4 separate regions of the Homo sapiens genome follow, and all the other regions are linked to region 4. Evidence: fine-mapped expression QTL. A gene starts in region 4. Each other region holds a variant in brackets. All regions are shown on one strand. Distances are from middle to middle. Region 1 overlaps ELL (elongation factor for RNA polymerase II). Region 2 overlaps ELL (elongation factor for RNA polymerase II). Region 3 overlaps ELL (elongation factor for RNA polymerase II). Region 4 holds the start of ELL (elongation factor for RNA polymerase II).

Evidence for each region.
Region 1: its variant is fine-mapped to the expression of ELL in whole blood (INTERVAL, PIP 0.97).
Region 2: its variant is fine-mapped to the expression of ELL in whole blood (TOPMed, PIP above 0.99).
Region 3: its variant is fine-mapped to the expression of ELL in whole blood (INTERVAL, PIP 0.99).

The regions. Positions count from the first base shown.
Region 1 is chr19:18,462,329-18,466,328 of GRCh38, reverse strand. It overlaps ELL (elongation factor for RNA polymerase II), which reads left to right. Exons shown (of 12, transcript NM_006532.4): 3 at 411-532; 4 at 754-917. Among named protein-coding and RNA genes, the nearest start is that of ISYNA1, 26 kb to the right of the region's middle. The variant T/C (reference allele first, on the strand shown) is at 1,946.
Region 2 is chr19:18,445,078-18,449,077 of GRCh38, reverse strand. ELL (elongation factor for RNA polymerase II) reads left to right here. Exons shown (of 12, transcript NM_006532.4): 9 at 2,264-2,330; 10 at 2,598-2,769; 11 at 3,810-3,854. Among named protein-coding and RNA genes, the nearest start is that of ISYNA1, 8.9 kb to the right of the region's middle. RefSeq lists an enhancer at 2,229-2,757. The variant G/A (reference allele first, on the strand shown) is at 2,019.
Region 3 is chr19:18,476,899-18,480,898 of GRCh38, reverse strand. The region is part of intron 1 of ELL (elongation factor for RNA polymerase II); the gene reads left to right. Among named protein-coding and RNA genes, the nearest start is that of ISYNA1, 41 kb to the right of the region's middle. RefSeq lists enhancers at 1,960-2,029, 1,443-2,345, 3,601-4,000. The variant G/A (reference allele first, on the strand shown) is at 1,766.
Region 4 is chr19:18,520,274-18,527,704 of GRCh38, reverse strand. It overlaps ELL (elongation factor for RNA polymerase II), which reads left to right and starts at 5,635. Exons shown (of 12, transcript NM_006532.4): 1 at 5,635-5,784. The coding sequence starts at 5,650. RefSeq lists enhancers at 5,142-5,471, 5,615-6,130, 6,131-6,646 and silencers at 5,862-6,171, 6,902-6,951.

The DNA of each region.
Region 1 (4,000 bases), 60 kb after region 4:
ATTTTACCTCATAGGGTGTCGCAGGCCAGGTCTGTCCATTTGGTGGTGGGGAAAGTGAGTCATGGTCCAGACAAACCACTTTCCAGGGGTCACACGATTGGGGTGGGGGCCCTGCATCTGGGCAGGTGCTGAGCACTGTCCTCAGACAGCAGTGCTGTTGCTGCTGAAAACGGCCCCTGGCCCCATGCCCACCCGCATAGGTGCCTGAGTCCCCTCTCTACGCAGTGTGTGTTGCTGAGGATGGGCTGCCTGTCCCGTCACTGGCTGAAGAGCAGGGGTGTGTTTTAGGGAAAAGGGCCAGCACATTCCTGTTGTGAGGGTTGCACTGTGGGGACTCATGCAGGAAGATGCAGGCTGGGGACCTGTCCTGCCGAGGACCTCCCAGTGACACCCCCTCCCCCTCCACGCAGCACATCTCCATCCCCCAGCCTGACTGCCCCGCAGAGGCGCGGACGTTCTCCTTCTACCTCTCCAACATCGGCCGCGACAACCCCCAGGGCAGCTTCGACTGCATCCAGCAGTATGTCTCCAGGTGAGGCGCCGCCCCACCCCAGAGCACCCCGCCGGCTCTTGAGGTCACCCTGCCACCTCTGGCCCAGGGTTGAGATGTGCCCCATTGAAACCATATTGCCTGAGATGGTGTTGACAGAGTCCATTTTCCAGGCCAGGTGGTGGGCTGGGGGCTTGGGCCCTCAACGGATCCTCCCTGCATTGTCCCAGCTGCTGACCCCAGCTCCTGGCCTTGTCTTGCAGTCATGGGGAAGTTCACCTGGACTGCCTGGGCAGCATACAGGACAAGATCACGGTGTGTGCCACCGACGACTCCTACCAGAAGGCGCGGCAGAGCATGGCCCAGGCGGAGGAGGAGACGCGGAGCCGAAGTGCCATTGTCATCAAGGCTGGAGGCCGCTACCTGGGTGAGCAGTGGGTTTGGCAGGGCTGTAGGGCAGCCGGGCAGCTGCCAGTGTCGGGAGACATTTGGGGCCTGTCCAGGCTGGGCACTGGCTGTGCCCTGCACAGAAATGATGGGTCAACCGAGGAGTCGGTCCCTGAGCAGGACGTGCCTGGACCAGAGTCTGGGTTGGGAAGAGAGGTATGGCCACATGGGCCTGGGGGCTATGTGAGGGATAGGGGGTTGGGTTATGGCAGCTGCTGGCTTGTGAAGCCTGAGGTGGACAAAGGGGCCTGAGAACTCCAGGAGCTGTGAGTTGGTGGTCCCTGCTTTCAGGCTGCAGCCTTGGGGACCTTCACCTGTCAGGGAGATCAACAGGCTCCCTGAAGATGGGCATGCAGCCTAGGGCAAGGCCCATGTCTGTCTCTGGAGGCTGCCCCCACCCTCACCTGACCAGCCAGCTCCTGCCCAACGCCACCACAGCCGGCAACAGGCAGGAAATGAGCCTCACAGGCCCTGTTGCCAGCGACCCAGCACTGCAGGAAAGCTCTGGCCACTCAGCATCAACTTGGAAACGGTTTCAGCAGTTGAGAAGCCAACAGGCCTTGACAGTGGGAAGCACAGTGCTGTTTGTTTACAGAGCTGCAGCACCCCGCCTCTTAGTCCAGGCAGAGCTCCAGGAGTCATGGGAACTCATTACGGCAGGAGTAGGGTGCCGGGCTTCAGGGAGGAGGGAGATGGCTCAGAGCAGACGACAGCCTTGATGGCTTTTTGAGTTTTATCTTTAAGAAAAGGCGGGGGCATTTCAATTCCTCTCTCTCCTCCTTCCGAAGAAAGCACGTGATTTCCCTTTGCTGAGCAGAGGGGTTCCCTCTGAGTGAAACCCCAGATGTGGGTGCAGGGGTTGGTCTTCCTGGTCAACACTGAGTCCGGGTGGACATGTTGTATGGCCAGGGAGCCCGGGTTGTCCATGATGTTGAGGCCCTGGGCTGTAAGCCCCAAGCACAGGGCTGCTGTGGGGAGAACAGTTGAAGAGACAGCGTGTTTTGTTTT[T/C]TGTTTTTTCTTTTTTTAAAGACAGGACCTTTCTCTGTCACTCAGGCTGGAGTGCGGTGGCACAATCATAGCTCACTGCAGCCTCAAACTCCTAGGCTCAAGTGATCCTACCTCAGCCTCCAGAGTAGCTGGGACCACAGGTGTGTGCCACCACACATGGCTAACTTTTAGATTTTTTGTAGAGACAGAGCCTCGCTATGTTGCACAGGCTGGTGTCTGACTCCTGGGCTCAAATGATCCTTTCGCCTGGGCCTCCCACAATGCTGGGATTACAGGCATGAGTCAGCGCACCTGGCCCCATATACATGTTAATAAATCTGTGGGTCCTTCAGCCAAAAACTTGATCAGAAATGTATCTTAGCACACCACTTTGGGTACAGTGAGGGTTTTTTTTTTTTGAGATGGAGTCGCGGTCTGTCGCCCAGGCTGGAGTGCAGTGGCGCGATCTCGGCTCACTGCAACCTCCGCCTCCCGGGTTCACGCCATTCTCCTGCCTCAGCCTCCCGAGTAGCTGGGACTACAGGTGCCTGCCACCACGCCCGGCTAATTTTCTTTTTTTTTGTATTTTTAATAGAGACGGGGTTTCACCGTGTTAGCCAGGACGGTCTCGATCTCCTGACCTCGTAATCCGCCCACCTCAGCATCCCAAAGTGCTGGGATTACAGGTGTGAGCCACCGCCCCTGGCCCAGTGAGGGTTTTTGAAACAGTTTATGTTCTGGTAGGGGACGCTGTCTGTTAAGATGTGAATGTGGCCAGATGCAGTGGCTCACACCTGTAATCTCAGCACTTTGAGAGTCCAAGGCAGGGAGATCACAAGGTCAGGAGTTCGAGACCAGCCTGGCCAATATGGTGAAACCCCATCTCTACTAAAAATACAAAAATTAGCCAGTTGTGGTGGCGTGCGCCTGGAGTCCCAGCTACTCGGGAGGCTGAGGCAGGAGAATCTCTTGAACCTGGAAGGCGGAGGTTGCAGTGAGCTGAGATTGTGCCATTGCACTCCAGCCTGCGCAACAGAGTGAGACTCTGTCTCAAAAAAAAAAAAAAAAAAAAAAAAAAAGATGTGAATGTGCGTGTTCCTCTGTCTCACAGTGCCCCCCTCAGGTTGCTCCTCCTCCCTGTCAATCAGCCTGGCCCTATATGGGTGAGTCCAGCCCTGCTGTCAGGACCCCACTGAACAGACCCCAGAGGTGTGAGCACTGGCCCTGGGTATTCTGAAAGCAAGGCTTTCTGGGTTAATTTGACAGATCAGATTTTGAGAGATAAGATCAGAGTGATGTTGTTACGAAGAGCTTTTGGGGGAAGGATTTGAGGCACTGTTGAGCTTGCTCGGCCGACCCTGTTCCCAAGGATGCCGGGGCATCATTGTTCAGGACAGAGCAGGGGAGCAGCGTGCTGGACCCTGCCCACGTCTCTGCGTTGGGGATAGAGGGGAACCTGCTCTCCCCAGGGCTCTGGGCACAGCCACGCCTGCCAGAGGAGAGCTTGACCAGGCCTAAGGCTGGGGTGCCACTTGCACCTCAGGGTCTTCAGAGCAGCTGCTGAAAGTGGCTCCGACATCTTTACTGACTTTAGAAAAACAAAAATGGCAGCCACATGGGGCCAGCATAGGACTCTGAAGTGCAGGCTTGGGAGTGACTGCCTCTTGCAGTTCAGGGACCCCCAGTTTAACATCAGAAGGGTTTACAAACAGCCCCTGCCTCAGGTTGGGCAGGATGGCTCTGGTTTATAATACCAGCACTTTGGAAAGCTGAGGTGGGAGGGTCCTTTGGGCCCATGAGTTTGAGACCAGTCTGGGCAGCATAGTGAGACCCCATCTCTACAAATAATATAAATTAGCCAGGCATGGTGGTGCACACCTGTGGTCCCAGCTACTCCAGAGGCTGAGGTGGGAGGATCGCTTGAGCCCAGAAGTTTGGGGCTGCAATGAGCCATGATTGTATTACACTCCAGCCTGGGTGACAGAGCAGGATCCTGTCTCAAAAAACAAAACAATCCTTCCCCCCCCGCCCCCCGCCCAAACACACACACACACACACACACACACACAGCCCACT
Region 2 (4,000 bases), 77 kb after region 4:
GAAAATGCAAAGCAGGGGTAGATGTCCCAAGCACCAAGAAAAGGACAGTGGAGGCACCAGAAGCTGAGCCTGGTGCTGGTGGTCCATGTTACCAGAGTCCTGAAGGTGGTACTTGTGCAGGGCATGTCTTAGCTGTCCTGTGCCCGTGCCCAGGACAAGCAAGTAGAGAGACGTGGGCTGTGAAGGGGAGAGATGGGGAGAGGAGCTGCTGTGGGGGTGTTCTCCGGGGCCCCGAAGCAGGGACCAGCTTGGCCGGCCCCACACAGCCAGAGCTTGAGTAGGAGTCGGGGGCCGCTGAGGTTTGCCAAGGGCTGGACTTTGAAGGTCCCACTGGTACCAGGTTGAGCTGACCCTGAGCCTTGATTTCCCCGTTTGTCATCCTAGCTGGTGAAGATCTTGGGGCATGTCAAATGAGGTAATGTTGACCAGCCTGACACATGGCAGTTATCTGTTGTAGAATACCCACGGAGTCCACTGCGTGGCGGGAGCATGGGCTTGGCCTTCGCAGCTGCGCCTTGCCTCTCACTTCCTTCTGGCCCGGACCAGGGTCAGACCCATTCAATACATGCCCATTGAGTTGCGTCCCTGGGAAGGCCACAGCCTCTTAAAGACAACCCAGGTGGGGGTGGTGGTGATATGGAAGACAGTGTCTGGCCCAAAGTGGGGAGTGTTAGAAACTTTGTGGGGAGTGAGCTTCGTCCACTTTTGGGAATTTGGCAGCAGAGAAGCTGCTGTGGTCAGCCCAGGTGTGTTACACTGAGAGAGAGGGCTCAGCAAACTGGAGATCGCAGACTCCTGCTCTCTCAGGGGATAGTGCAGAGGGCCCCTGAAAATGTGCACTAGGGCCAGGCACAGTGGTTCCGCCTATAATCCCAGCATGTTGAGAGGCCAAGTCAAGAGGATCACTTAAGTCCAGGAGTTCAAGACCAGCCTAGGCGATATAGGCAAGCCTCCTCATCTCTACTAAAAAGTAAAAAAAAAAAAAAAAAATTCGCCAGGTGTGGTGGTTCATGCCTTTAATCCCAACGCTTTGAAAGGCCAGTTCAGGAGGATTGCTTGAGGTCAGGAGTTTCAGACCAGCCTGGGCAACACAGTGAGACCCCATCTCTACAAAAAAATTTTGTAATTAGCTGGGCATGGTGGCATATGCCTGTAGTCTCACCTACTTGGGAGGCTGAGGCAAGAGGATCACTTGAGCCCAGGAGTTCAAGGTTGTAGTGAGCCATGATCGCACCATTGCAACTCCAGCCTGGGTGGCAGAGCAAGACCCTGTCTCTAAAAAAAAAAAAAAAGTGTATTGAGGATACATCTGAAATTGATAAAATCATTTCTGTATCGGAAAGAAAGCCACTGCAAGAAGGTCTAGAAAACGCACTAAATTGTAGTTGTGGTCTTAGGCGACGCGCACTTCAGTCTTCCTGCCCCTCCCCTCCCTGATTTCCAGACCCTCAGGGGTGTTGTCTTATGTGGCCGGGGCACCCCACCACATGGCTCAGGAGCAGGACAGCTGCCTGGGGTGCCATCTAGCCATCAGCTGTGCTGCTTTGGGCAGGCCCCTGAAGGGGCGAAGGGCTGAGCGTCATCATGGACACTTTGCTCATGGATGGCCGATTGGGGTGGCCCATGGGCTCCTCTGGCTGGCCCTGTCCTGGAGCTGCCTTGTGGAGCGTGCAATTCAGTGTCTAGTGGAAAGGACGGGATGATCTGGGTGGGGCACAGACCAAGGGCGTGGAACTTTGTCAGCAGCAAGAGATGCAGGCCCTGCTGGCCATCTTGTCTTTGTCCTGTCTGGCCAGAGACTGGGATGCCCCAGAGACTCAGGTCAAGCCAGGGGTCATTTGTTTTCAGCTTAGTGACCTTTGACATGCAGTCAGTGGAGGCAGCAAGGGCCTGGCCTGGGGGAAGCTCTGACCGGTTGTGCAGGCTTTGGCCCTGCAGTTCCCTGACCTGTCCGCTGTTTGCCAAGAATGTGACTGTGGTGATGCCTGGGTGCTCTGTGTCCTGCAGGGCTTTGCCCT[G/A]GACACGCAGGTGCACGCTGAGCTCTGCTCACCACCTGGAGGGCACGCCCAGGTCCAGCAGCCCACAGTTGCCAGGTGCGAGGGGCTCAGCCCTTGCACCTGCCACACAGTCATCCCCTCTGCTATCCCTCTATGTCCCTCCAGCAGCAAAGTGTACAGTTTTCATGCATGTCCCCATCCTGGCGTGCTTCCTGCCGACCGGTGCCATGGGCGCAGACTCAGGAGGTATGTGTTTGCTCTCGTAGGTTTAAACGGAACCTGCAGCGTTTCCAGTGTTCCCACGTCCACGTCGGAGACGCCTGACTACTTGCTGTGAGTGTTTGTCTGGGCCCTGCAGGCCAGGCCTCCCTTTTCTGGGTTCAGACCCCCTCCCCCAGCACTGCAGGTTATCAGAGGTAGAAGCCACTGCAAGTCTGAGTATGTGAATTCCAAACATAGCAGCCTCTTCTGGGCCAGGCCCCCTCATAATCCAGGGAATCACCCGAGAGGCCAGGCCGCCGGTGGAGCCAGGATGGCCACTTCCTGGGTGGGGCTGGGTCCTTCCAGCCTCCACTCAGTGGCCCCTCTCTCCTGTTTCAGGAAGTACGCAGCCATCTCCTCTTCGGAGCAGCGCCAGAGCTACAAGAACGACTTCAATGCCGAGTACAGCGAGTACCGCGACCTGCACGCCCGCATTGAGCGCATCACGCGGCGGTTCACCCAGCTCGACGCCCAGCTCCGGCAGCTCTCCCAGGGCTCCGAGGAGTATGAGGTAGAGCCCCCCCGCTGCCTACTGTGCCCTGGCTCTGGCGGGAGCCAGGGCCCACTTGGGCGCGCACCATCGCCACCACGAGCTTGGTGGCCCCAGAGTCTGGCCCTTCCCCAGGCAGCGCTTCTCCCCCTGGTGCACTCCATGCAGCAACCCCATGGTTCTGGCCCGGCCCTGGGGTCCTGTTGTGGGAGTCCTTGAAGGCAGCCCAGCTTGTCAGCCTCCTTTGCAGTGGGGACAGCTGTGACCCACCTCCTTGGATGGGGGCGAGCCGGGGTACATGGATCCCCACATGTTTGAGCGCCTGGGGTCCTCTCACAGCCTAGGACACAGGGCTCTTGGTACCTGTGCCAAACCCTCAGGAGACTCCGCAGCTGAGCTCTGTCCAGCACCCTGGGGCCCATCCATGCTGCCACAACTATAGCAGGGGGAGGTGACAGGTCCCTGTGGTCCTGGGAATCAGGACTCCTGTGGTCCCCTGGCTTGAGCTCACAGCTCATTCAGCTGCCCTGTGTATACAGAGAGTCTCCACCCTTAGCCTAGCCTTGGACGTAGCCGCCCCACCTGCCACCTTTCGGAACTGGTGACCTGACTACAGGGCTGGGCCCTGATTAATCAGATGCCGGGGTCTCTCCTGGCCAAGGCCCCTTTGCCTTCCAAAGACGACGACTCATGATGGGGTTCTAGGGGCTGCGAGCCACGGGTTCTTGGGGCATCTCTCCTTCCCCTTCCCTCCCTCTTTGCTGCACCCCCCCACCCCCTCCCCACCCCCCCACGACATGGATACTTCCTTGTCCTGCCACGCCCCCACAACAGCAGTGCCCCACCTGCTATTGCCTCCAGGGGACCCGGCAGCCTTTCCCTCATGCCCCACCCACTCCGGAGCTACAGCCGCTGTGGGCCCCTGGGGTGTTACTTGGCCTTGTCCTTGAGGCTGCCCCACCCTCCCATGCCCCCTTCTCAGAGCACCTGGGACCACTCAATTTGGGTTTCCTGTAGGCGGGGACACATTCTGTTTTCTCAAAATTTTGTTTTTCTTCTAGACTACTCGAGGGCAGATTTTGCAGGAATATCGAAAAATCAAAAAGGTGAGTGTCTCTTGTGTTGGGGTGGGCTCCAAGTGAGCCATGGGAGCTGGAGGGAGGAGGGTGGGCCCGGGGCAGCCTCCCTGCCCGCTACTTCCAAGGTGTGGGGGAAGAGCCTTTGAGTCTGAGGCCAAAGTTGCCCCACCACC
Region 3 (4,000 bases), 45 kb after region 4:
ACTTTGGGAGGCTGAGTCTGTCGAGTTGCTTGAACCTAGGAGTTCAAGTCCAGCCTGGGCAACATGGCAAAACCCTATCTCTACAGAAAATAGAAAAATTAGCCAGGTGTGTTGGTGTGTGCCTGTGGTCCCAGCTACTCGGGAGCTGAGGCAGGAGGATCACCTGAGCCTAGAAGGTCGAAGCTGCAGTGAGCCGTGTTCACACCACCGCACTCCAGCCTGGGTGACAGAGTGAGAGCTTATCTCCAAAAAGAAAGAAAGAAAAAAAATACTTGCTATGCCGGCCACTGAATTACACTTGGCTTGTAGCCAGTTGGAGTCCCTTTCCTGCTCTTACAGGCCCACCTGGCCTGCTGAACACACCATCTGTCCTCCCAGGCTGGCAGAGGAGCTGCCGTGGGTCCTGCCCTCTGCTCTGCCCTGACCGTGGCCACCTGGTTCCCTAGGCTGGAACCAGTGAGGTCCACAATGTGTCTGTCCAAGTTCCCTAGCTCGTCCCTGAGCCAACCAAGCTCACTGGGCAGATCTTCCTTTGTTTTGTAGTTCACGGAGACAGCCCCACTCAGTCACTGTCTAAACTCTCCGTGGCCTCAATGTCCTGCTCCAGTCCTGCCAGGAAGTCTCAAGGAGGATTCCTGAATAGCGTTTCCCAATCATTTGTGCTTTACTGGAAAGGGGGGGCCTGTTGTGGGGAGGCCACCGTCCAGGGCTCTTCCCGGGACTTCACCTTCCCTCTGCTGGACCACACGCCGTGGCTTGGCAGGGTGACCCAGCTCTGTAAGATCAGGACGTGTGTGCTGACACTGGTGCTTGGGAGAGTCAGCAAGATGGACTTCTGAAGAAGGAACAGATGCATTCCTTTCTGTCATTTCCTGCATCAGGGGTGGGGTGGCAGGCCTTGCCCAGTAGACAGCAGGGAGAACGTGCTGCCTGGGGAGAGTGGGCACTTCTGCTGAGTGGGTGCTTCTGGAGGGTGGTGGGAAGGATCATGTGTCTTTGGGGCAGCCTTGGCACCTGCTGCCTTGGGCCTCATTGTCCCCAGGCTGGTAGCAGGTATCCTGGGACCTGGCCAGATTGGGCCCCGTCCATCTGTCTGTGTGTCTCATCTCTTCACTGTGCCCTCTCCCTAGTTTCTGTCTTTGCTGGAGAGTTTTTAAAACAATCCTAGATTTTTTTTTTTTTTTTTTTTTGAGATGGAGTCTCACTCTGTCGTGCAGGCTGGAGTGCAGTGGCTTGATCTCAGCTCACTGCAACCTCCGCCTACCGGGTTCAAGCAGTTCTCCTGCCTCAGGCTCCCGAGTAGCTAGGATTATAGGCGTATGCCACCATGCCTGGCTAATTTTTGTATTTTTAGTAGAGATGGAGTTTCACCATGTTGGTCAGGCTGGTCTTGAACTCCTGACCTCAAGCAGTCCACCTGCCTCAGCCTCCCAAAATGCTGGGATTACAGGTGTGAGGTACCATGCCTGGCCAACAATCAGATACGTTCTTCTTCACCCGTAACTTTTCCATTTATATTTTATATTTGTTGAAGGGAGCAGGTCTTTTTTCCCATAGATTTTTCTGCTTTCTGCTCTGATGGTCGCTTCCCGTGGCAGGGTCAGCCCAGGGCTTCTCAGCCCCTGCACTGCTTGACATTTGGGGCAGGAGGTTCTGTGTTGCCTGCAGTGTGCTGAGCAGCATCCCTGGCCTCCCCCGAGCCAGATGGTGGGGACTGTCCCCGCCCTCAGTGGTGAGGACCAGAAATGGCTCCAGACATTGCCTC[G/A]TGCCCTGGGGAAGATTCACCCACCACACTTCCTGTAAACTGGTCACTCGGCCTGGAGGTGGATTTCGTAAGCCACTTCCTGTTGCTTCATCCCCGGAAGTGCTCTTTGCCGGAGGGGAGAGGATCAGGGGATTCTGGCCCTGGAGAGGTTCCTCCTCACCCTTTCCTCTGTCTCAGCATTGAGGACTCTCACTGCCTCCCAGGCTCTGCACCCTCGACCCTTTTCCCAAAGGCATTGCTGTCTTTACAGGAGTGTCCTCATTGAGGGGGAGCTGCCTACAGGAGTCTCCCAGTCTGTGTTCAGTAGCCCCAGTGGGCGCCCAGGCCAAGTGACCGCAGGGCGCAGGCATCACTGCCCTGCTGTGTTGAGGTCTGTTCTCCGAGTCAGGGTCTGAAGTCCAGTTGGGTCTGGGGAGCACCAGCCTCGGCACAGCTCAGTGCCTGCCTGTCCGGCCTTGAAGACCCAGCTGACCTGCTGACTGTGTCAGGCCAGCTGTGGCGGCCCTACCAGGCTCCCCAGCTCCCACCTGGGGCCCTGGCCTGAAGTACAGCAGCGGGGGTGACTTTGTATCTCAGGAGCTCCCAGTTCCATACCTCATGCTGGGTAATGAAAGTTGGATTTTTGCCACTCGAGGGCCTGAGAGGACTTGTGGGGGTGATGACCCCTCAGAGGGTCTACAGAGACTGGGCAGGCGGTGGCCTGAGGCATGGCTCTCCCCTGCTGGGTGTTCTTGGGTGTGAGATGGGCAGTACCCTGCAGGTGTCATGTGCTACTGAGTTACCCCGTTATTTAATTAATGCAGCCTGAGGCCAACCCCAAAGCTTCTAAGGCAGCAGGGAAATCACCTGTGCTACAGTCTGTTCCTGACCCTCTGTCCTGCTTCATAGATGAGGTAACGAGGCGCTTGGCCCCCCTGACAAGGGTTCGGCCATGACACCACGCATGTTGGCTCTGGAGGGAGCAGCCAGAAGAGGGTGTGGTGGGCCACATGCTGTCAGGCGTCCCCACCAGGCCAGGCTGGTGAGCACAGAGGGTGACAGCTGGTCCCACCGTGAAGGGACCTAGCTGGCTCTGCCTGTCTGCAGCCGACACTCACCTCCTGGGCCCTTGATTGGCTTGTCAGGGCACTGCACCCCAGCTGCTTTCTGTGTTTTTTCTCATCCCCCCCACCCAGTCCTTGTGTTCTCATCACCATCTATTTAGCACCCCACATTCAAAACCCCAGCCTCACTACCGTAATTTATGCCTTGAATGATCTTTTGCAGAAACATCATAAGAAAAAAGCCTTTTCTATTCATGCATGCTCACTGTGCCCGCGTCATCCTCTGCAAATCCATAGGTCCATTTAGGGTCACTCTCCCTCCTTCTGAAGAACTTCTAGAACCTTCCTCACAGTGCAGGCCAGATGCTGACAGAAGATTCTCTCAGCATTTGTTTGAGCGAATCTTTATTTCCCTTTCTCTTTTCACTGGGCATGGAATTGTGGTCTGGCGGTGTTTCTCCCTCAGCACTTTGAAGATGCCCTCCCAGTGTCGGGGCTGGCTCCTGATGTGCAGTGTCGGCACCTCGGCACTTGGGGCGACTGTTGTGGCTGTGCTGATTTGCTCATGATGCGCCACGACCTGGTAGTTTTCCTGCTGGGGGTTGACAAGGCTTCTTGGGTCTGTGGATTTATAGCATTTGTTACATTTGGGAATCTCTGGCCACTCTTTTCTCAGATCCCCCGCCTGCCCTCAGGACTCCAGTTACTTGCACGTGGGATCCCCTGCTGTCGTCCGCAGGTCACCGAGGTGGTGTTCGTTTCCTGTAGGCTTCTTACTGTGGGATTCATCTAGGTGGCTCCTGTGGCTTTGTCTTCAAGTTCGCTGCCCTTTTCTTCTGTGGTGCCTGCTGTGACTTCCACCTAGTGGCCGTTTCATTCCGATCCTCCGTGTCTCAGCTCCAGAAGCCCCTCGTGGCTCTCTCACGATACCCGTACGTCTTCCTCTTCAGCTGTTTTCCTTTAGGCTTGGAGCATTCCAAGTTCACAGTAGCTGTCCCAAAGCCCCTGTCTGTTCAGTCGGCATCTCTGTGCTTCCCACGTCTTTGTGCCGACTCATTTTCCCCCTGGCTTAGGAGTCTCGTTTTCCTGCTGCTTCACGTGTCTGTAGGGTTCTGCTTATAGATACCACATGGCGTTCTTATGAGGTGGGTCCCTGCCCGATGGTCCGCACAGGGCTGGCCATGATTTAGAC
Region 4 (7,431 bases):
CCACCCCACTGCACTCAAGTGATTCTCCCACTGCAGCCTCCCAAGTAGCAGGGGCTACAGGCACGTGCCACTGCTCTCAGCCAATATTTTAGTCTTGAATTGCAGCCTAGACCTGGCTAAATGTGAGACTGATAGTTAATATTTCACTCACTTGTTTGATACACTTTTTTTTTTTTTGAGACGGAGCCTCACTCTGTCGCCCAGGCTGCAGTGCAGTGGGGCGATCTCGGCTCACTGCAACCTCTGCCTCCTGGGTTCAAGTAATTCTCCTACCTCAGCCTCCGGAGTAGCTGGGACTGCAGGCACGTGCCACCACACCCGGCTAATTTTTGTATTTTTATTAGAGACAGGGTTTCACCATGCTGACCAGGCTGGTCTTGAACTCCTGACTTCAAGTCATTCCCCCACCTCTGCCTCCCTAAGTGCTGGGATTATAGGTATGAGCCACTACTCCTGGCTGCTTGTTTGATAAACTTTTAAAAAAGCTTTATTAAAGGAAGGAAATGTCCTTCCTGGCCAAGCAAACTGCCGGTGCCAATGTCTGGAGTTGAAATAGCCCCGCTGGCCAGGCGCGGTGGCTCAAGCCTGTAATCCCAGCACTTTGGGAGGCCAAGGCGGGCAGATCACGAGGTCAGGAGATTGAGACCATTCTGGCCAACGTGGTGTCTCTACTAAAAATACAAAAAAATTAGCCGGGCGTGGTGGCACACGCCTGTAGTCCTAGCTACATGGGAAGCTGAGGCAGGAGAATGGCGTGAACCCAGGAGGTGGAGCTTGCAGTGAGCTGAGATCGCGCCACTGCACTCCAACCTGGGTGACAGAGCAAGACTCCATCTCAAAAAAAGAAAAAAGAAATAGGCCCGGAGCTGCCTAGAACATGCAAGTTATGACATGGTGCGGGGACGGGGAGGAGAGAGGCCCCGAATGGCCAGACTAGGAGTGTGAAATTGAATGTGGTTATTCACTCGGCCACTTCATCCTCAAAGGTCTGAGCTGGTTGTGGGTGGTGAGCTGGAGCATCCAGCACGTGTGACGCTGCAGTTGTGTTGAAGGCATGGGATGCCTTTAATGGGTGGTGAAGGGTATCCCTTGTGGATGGCATAGCTGTGCAAGGTATGCCAGCTGGACCATGTGTGGTACCTTTGGAGAACGACGGGGATGGCTTTGTCTTTCATACCAAAGCATTTACTAACACCTCCCATATACCTGGCCTTGAGCAGTGACTCAGGAGGGCCTTACCCGACTTGCCATGGGCTGTGAATTGGAAGTGAGCACTGCGGAAGGAATTTTGTATGTGTACGCGAGCTCACAATTCTGGAACACTTGAACAGGGCGAGCTACACATGTCCTTGTCTCATGTCATTGTCACAGAAGAATCAGGTAGATGCTGTTACACTCCCTGTTTTCTGGATGAGCAAACTGAGGAACAGAGATGGCAAGATGTGTCCAAGACCACACACGGGGTAAGGGGCAGGGTGGGGTCACTGCTTCCATCAGAGAGCTCACCAGGTGGACTATGTGTCCGGGGGGCACCCCAGGGTGATCAACTCACTTGCAATATTGTGGGTGACCTAGTTCCTTTTTTTTTTTTTTTGAGATGGAGTCTCGCTGTGTCACCCAGGCTGGAGTGCAGTGGCGCGATCTCGGCTCACTGCAAACTCCGCCTCCCAGGTTCACGCCATTCTCCTGCCTCAGCCTCCGGAGTAGCTGGGCCTACAGGCGCCTGCCACAATGCCTGGCTAATTTTTTTGTATTTTTAGTAGAGACGGGGTTTCACTGTGTTAGCCAGGATGGTTTCGATCTCCTGACCTCAAGTGATCCACCCGCCTCGGCCTCCCAAAGTGCTGAGATTACAGGCGTGAGCCACCATGCCTGGCCATGGGTAACCTAGTTCTTAAAAATTTCTGCAGACAAAGCCGGACACGGTGGCTCACGCCTGTAATCCCACCACTTTGGGAGGCCGAGGCGGGTGGATCACTTGAGGTCAGGAGTTCGAGACCTACATGGTGAAATCCCGTCTCTACTAAAAATACAAAATTAGCTGGGTGTGGTGGCGTGTGCCTGTAATCCCAGCTACTCAGGAGGCTGAGGCAGGAGAATCACTTGAACCAGGAGGCAGAGGTTGCAGTGAGCCGAGATCGTGCCACTGCACTCCAGCCTGGGCAACAAGAGCAAAACTCCGTCTCAAAACAAAGAAACAAAAATGTCTGCAGACGGCCAGGTGCAGTGGCTTATGGCCTATAATCCTAGCACTTCCTAGCACTTTGGGAGGCTAGGCGACAGGATCTTTTGAACCCAGGAGTTAGAGACCAGCCTGGGCAACATGGAAAAATCTCATCTCTTCAAAAAATACAAAAGATTGGCCCAGTATGGTGGAGCATGCCTGTAATTTCAGCTACTTGGGAGGCTGAGGTGGGAGGATGGGTTGAGCCCAGGAGTTGGAGGCTGCAGTGAGCCGAGATCATGCCACTGCACTCCAGCCTGGGTGACAGAGTGAGAACTTGTCTCCAAAAAAAAAAAAAAAAAAAAAGGCCAGGCATGGTGGCTCACGCCTGTAATCCCAGCACTTTGGGAGGCTGAGGCAGGCGGATCATCGGATCATGAGGTCAGGAGATCGAGACCATCCTGGCTAACACGGTGAAACCCCGTCTACTAAATATACAAAAAATTAGCCAGGCGTGGTGGCACGTGCCTGTAACCCGAGCTACTCGGGCGGCTGAGGCAGGAGAATCGCTTGGACCCAGGAGGCGGAGGCTGCAGTGAACCCGAGATTGTGCCACTGCACTCCAGCCTGGGCGACAGAGTGAGACTCCGTCTCAAAAAAAAAAAAAAAAAAGAAACTTCTGCAGAGCATGCCAACGTCTGATAAGTTCTGCCTTATTTTTCCTGGGGTCTCATTGAGATCCACTGGGGAATCAAATGTAAAGTAGACGTGGAGAAATACTTTTTTTTTTTGGGACCGAGTCTTGCTCTGTCACCCAGGCTGGAGTGCAGTGGCACGATCTCGGCTCACTGCAAGCTCTGCTTCCTGGGTCCAAGCTATTCTCCTGCCTCAGCCTTCTGAGTAGCTGGGATTACAGGCGTGTGCCACCATGCCTGGCTAATTTTAGTGTTTTTAGCAGAGACGGGGTTTCACCATGTTGGTCGTGGTGGTCTCGAACTCCTGACCTCATGATCCAGCCCCCTCGGCCTTCAAAAGTGCTGGGATTACAGGCGTGAGCCACTGGGGGCCTGGCTTTTTTTTTTTTTTTTTTTTTTTTTTTTTGGAGACAGGGTCTTACTCTGTCACTCAGGCTGGAGTGCTGGAATATAGTGGTGCGAACATAGTTCACTACAGCCTCAACCTCCCATGGGCTTGAGAGAGCCTCCCATGTCAGCCTCCGGAGTAGCTGGGACCACAGGGGTGCTCCACCATGCCCGGCTAATTTTTTTAATTTTTTAAATTTTTTTGTAGAGAGGGGGCTTAGCCCTGTTACCCAGGCTGGTCTCAAGCCCTTGGGTGCAAGCGATCCTCCCGTCATGGCATCCCAAAATGCTGGGATTTCAGGTGTGAGACACCTTGCTAGGTCCTGAGTACTGCTCTTATTGCTGTTTCCTGTTTCCGAAGTGAATCCACAGAGGCTCAGAAGCAGGAGGTGCCTTTCACAAGATCACAGAGCGAGCTGGTTGGCCCTCCAAGCCAGCTCCTCCCTTGGCCAGGCGCAGTGGCTCACGCCTGTAGTCCCAGCACTTTGGTAGCCCTAGGCAGGCGGATCACCTGAGGTTGGGAGTTAGAGACCTGATCAATATGGTGAAACCCCGTCTCTACTGAAAATACAAAAATTAGCTGGGCGTGGTGGTGGGCATCTGTAATCCCAGCTACTCGGGAGGCTGAGGCAGGAGAATCGCTTGAACCTGGGAGGCGGAGGTTGCAACGAGCTGAGATGGCACCGTTGCACTCCAGGTTGGGCAACAAGAGTGAAACTCTGTCTCAAAGAAAAAGAAAAAAAAATCTCGGAAATTAGATAGTGGTGACAGCTACACAGCATTGGGAATATATTTTATATGTAAAATGTGACTCAATGAAGTTGCTTTTTAGAAAATGGAAGGCTGGCCGGGCACAGTGGCTCATGCTTGTAATCCCAGCACTTTGGGAGGCCGAGGTGGGTGCATCACTTGAGGTCAGGAGTTCCAGACCAGCCTGACTAACATGGTGAAATCCCGTCTCTACTAAAAATACAAAAAATTAGCTGGGCGTTGTGATGGGCGCCTGCAGTCCCAGCTACTACTCGGGAGGCTGAGGCAGGAGAATTGCTTGAATCCAGGAGGCGGTGGTTGCAGTGAGCCGAGATCACACCACTGCACTCCAGCCTGGGCAAGGAAATCGAAACTCTGTCTAAAAACAAACAAACAAACAAAAACTGGGGGAGGTGGCTCACGCCTGTAATCCTAGCACTTTGGGAGGGCGAGGCGCGCGGATCACCTGAGGTCAGGAGTTCAAGACCAGCCTGGTCAACATGGTGAAACCCCATCTCTACTAAAATACAAAAATTAGCTGGGCATGATGGCGGGCGCCTGTAATCCCAGCTACTCGAGAGGCTGAGACAGGAGAATCGCTTGAATTCAGGAGACGATGGTTGCATTGAGCCGAGATAGCGCCACTGTTCTCCAGTCTGGGCTGATGAGCAAGACTCCGTCTCAAAAAAAAAAAAAAAGAAAAGAAAAGAAAATGGAAGTCTGGGCTTGGTGGCTCACTCCTGTAATCCTAGCATTTCAGCAGACCCAGACAAGGAGGATCAGTTTGAGTTCAGGAGGTCGAGGGTGCAGTGAGCCATGATGGCGCCATTGCACTCCAGCCTGGGCAACACAGCAAGACCCCTCAAAAAAAAATTAAAATAGGAAAATGAAGCTGGACTGCACCATCGCTCAGGGACTGTGGGGATGTAGGATTTTATCCTATTAAAAGTACTCATCTCATAAGAAAAAGTTTACCAGCTCCTCTTCCACCTACCGGTCCAGCACCTTCCCTGGGTGGAAGTCCCATCCACCCCGCCTAAGGGATGCCTTATGTGTCCAACCCAGCGTCCAACGCGCGCGCTCCGTTTACATAGCCACGCCCACCCTCCCGGCCCGCGGCGGGGCCTACCCACCCACGTGTTTCGAGCCGGCTCCGCCCCTCCACGCCCTCTCTGCGGCTTTCCACAGAAGCCAAAGACGGAAGACTGTAGAGATCTCATAAATAATGCATCACGTCAGCGGCTGTAGGGGCGGGGCTTTGACGCGCCTGGCTGGCTGAGTCAGGGTTATGTATAATACTATGGAGGCGGGGCCTGGAGGGGTGCGCGTGTTGAGGCGGAGTTCGTTCACGGAAGTGGCCACCCCTAGGGCCTGAAGAGGCGGGGCCATAAGTGCCTTATGAATATGCAACAACTTGGGGCGTTGACTGTGGGCCTTGTGGGGCCCTCATGGGGCGTGGCCAGGCGCGTCTCCTGAATAATGTAGTGCGCTGCCTGCCGGTGTGGCGGCGACTGTTGGTTTGGTCGGACTCGGGGGGCGTGGCCAGCCGCGTCTCATGAATAATGCAGCGCGTCAGCGGGCGGCGGGGCGGGGCGTGGCCGGCGTGGCGGCGCTGGAGCCGGGAAGGGGGCGCGGGGGAGAGATGGTCGCAAGATGGCGGCGCTGAAGGAGGATAGGAGCTACGGGCTGTCGTGCGGGCGGGTTAGCGACGGCAGCAAGGTGTCGGTGTTCCACGTGAAGCTCACCGACAGTGCCCTGAGGGCCTTCGAGAGCTACCGCGCCAGACAGGTGAGTGGCATGGCGCCCGGCGCGCCAGTGGGGAACGTCCGGACGCGGGCCGGCCTCGCGCTCCCCTCACTGAGGCGTCCGGGCTCGGAGACGCTAGGTCTGTGGTGCTGCTCGCGGGTCCCTGGGCCGGCGGGGCGCGGAGTGGGCGCCAGTCCGGCCTGGAGCGCTGAGAACCGCGTTCCTTCTCAGCACTAGGAGGCAATACAGGCGGGTGGCCCGGGGCTGCTGAGGGGCCCAGACTCGCGCGCCGGGCCCGGGGGGCGTCGGTGTCGGCACCTGGCGGCGTCCGGGGCCTTTCTGGCCTGCTGGGCACCTGGGCAGGGTCCAGTTTGCGCACCTGGCGGCGGGGCGAGGAGGCGGTGGGCCGCACGGTCCCGGCACCGTGATAGGGGGAAGCTGGGGGCTTTTCCATCTGGGGCCGGGGCAGCGCCGTTGGTGGGGGTGACTGTGTCTGTCCTCCTGGGAAGCAGCGATCGTCTGGGTGCCCGGCAGGGGGTGGTCAGCGAGGCACTTGTGGGGGTCTGTTCTGTCTGGGTGGAAGGCTTTGCAGCTGGGGGCTGGCTTTGACGCGTTCCGATGAAGCCACTCAGGTTGGGCCACTTTGGTTCTTGGGACGGGGAGTTTGGGCAGAAACTGACAGCTTGTCCCAGCTTTCTGCTCCCCTTACCCCCAGGTGACCCTCTCTCTCCGGAGAGAGGTTCCTTGGAGAGTGGAAGTGTTGGGGGCGGCTGTGATGTTATCCTCAGGGCACATGTAGGGGATCCCTGCCACCCAGGAGGAAGCTCTGGCTACCACATCTGGCCGCTGACTCTGGAACTTCTCAGAGGCCGATTTGGGCCCATCTGGGGGAAGTTTGAGGCGTTTCGGTTCTGCCACCTGGCTGGTGGTGGGGAGGGGAGGCTGCTGTGTATGTTCTCTTGGGCCTGACTTTGGGGCGCATCTGGGGCCGTGGTCAGAAACCTGCCTTTTTCATTTCTGTTTGTGTCATGGCCCCCCCTCCCCCCGTCTGTGCTGGGTCAGAAGTTGCAGATGACCAGTGGTCAGGTCCCGAGGGGAAGTGGTTTAGGAACCTTGTAACTCCTTTTCTGGAAATTGGGGGCTTCATTGCCCTAAAGGGAGTGGGGGTGGGTCTAGTCTCGGGCTCAGAGAGCCCTGCTCCCTGCGTGTGTGTGTGTTTGTGTATACTGTTGATGGTGGGGGTGGGGGGGTGCCGCGGGCGGGGGAGGAGGGAGACTAACTAGGAAGGAATGTGGCTTTCTTCCTGCCCCGAACTTGTTCAGCTCCATTAGCTAAGCCGAGAATTTCTTCCCCCTGTTTCGTTTCCACCACTCTCCCGGTGCCCACCCCTTCCGTGCTTCTTCCCATGTCTTTGGGCAATTTCCTCCCTGTCCCGGTGTCGCAGTTTTCCCCTTCATGGAATGAGGATTTCATTTTTTTTTGAAAGAGCAAGTTCGCACCTTGTCAAAAAGACTCCCCAAGATGAGGCTAAGGCGCCCCTGCAGGTGAGGAGGAGACAGTGGCAGCGACAGCAGCTGCTGGCCCATGACCAGCCAGAGCCTCTCTTCCTGGTAGAATTCTGGCCCTGGGTCTTTTTCCCTGAGCGATTCTGACTTGTCCTGCAGGAAGGCAGGCTTTCCTAGAAACAGC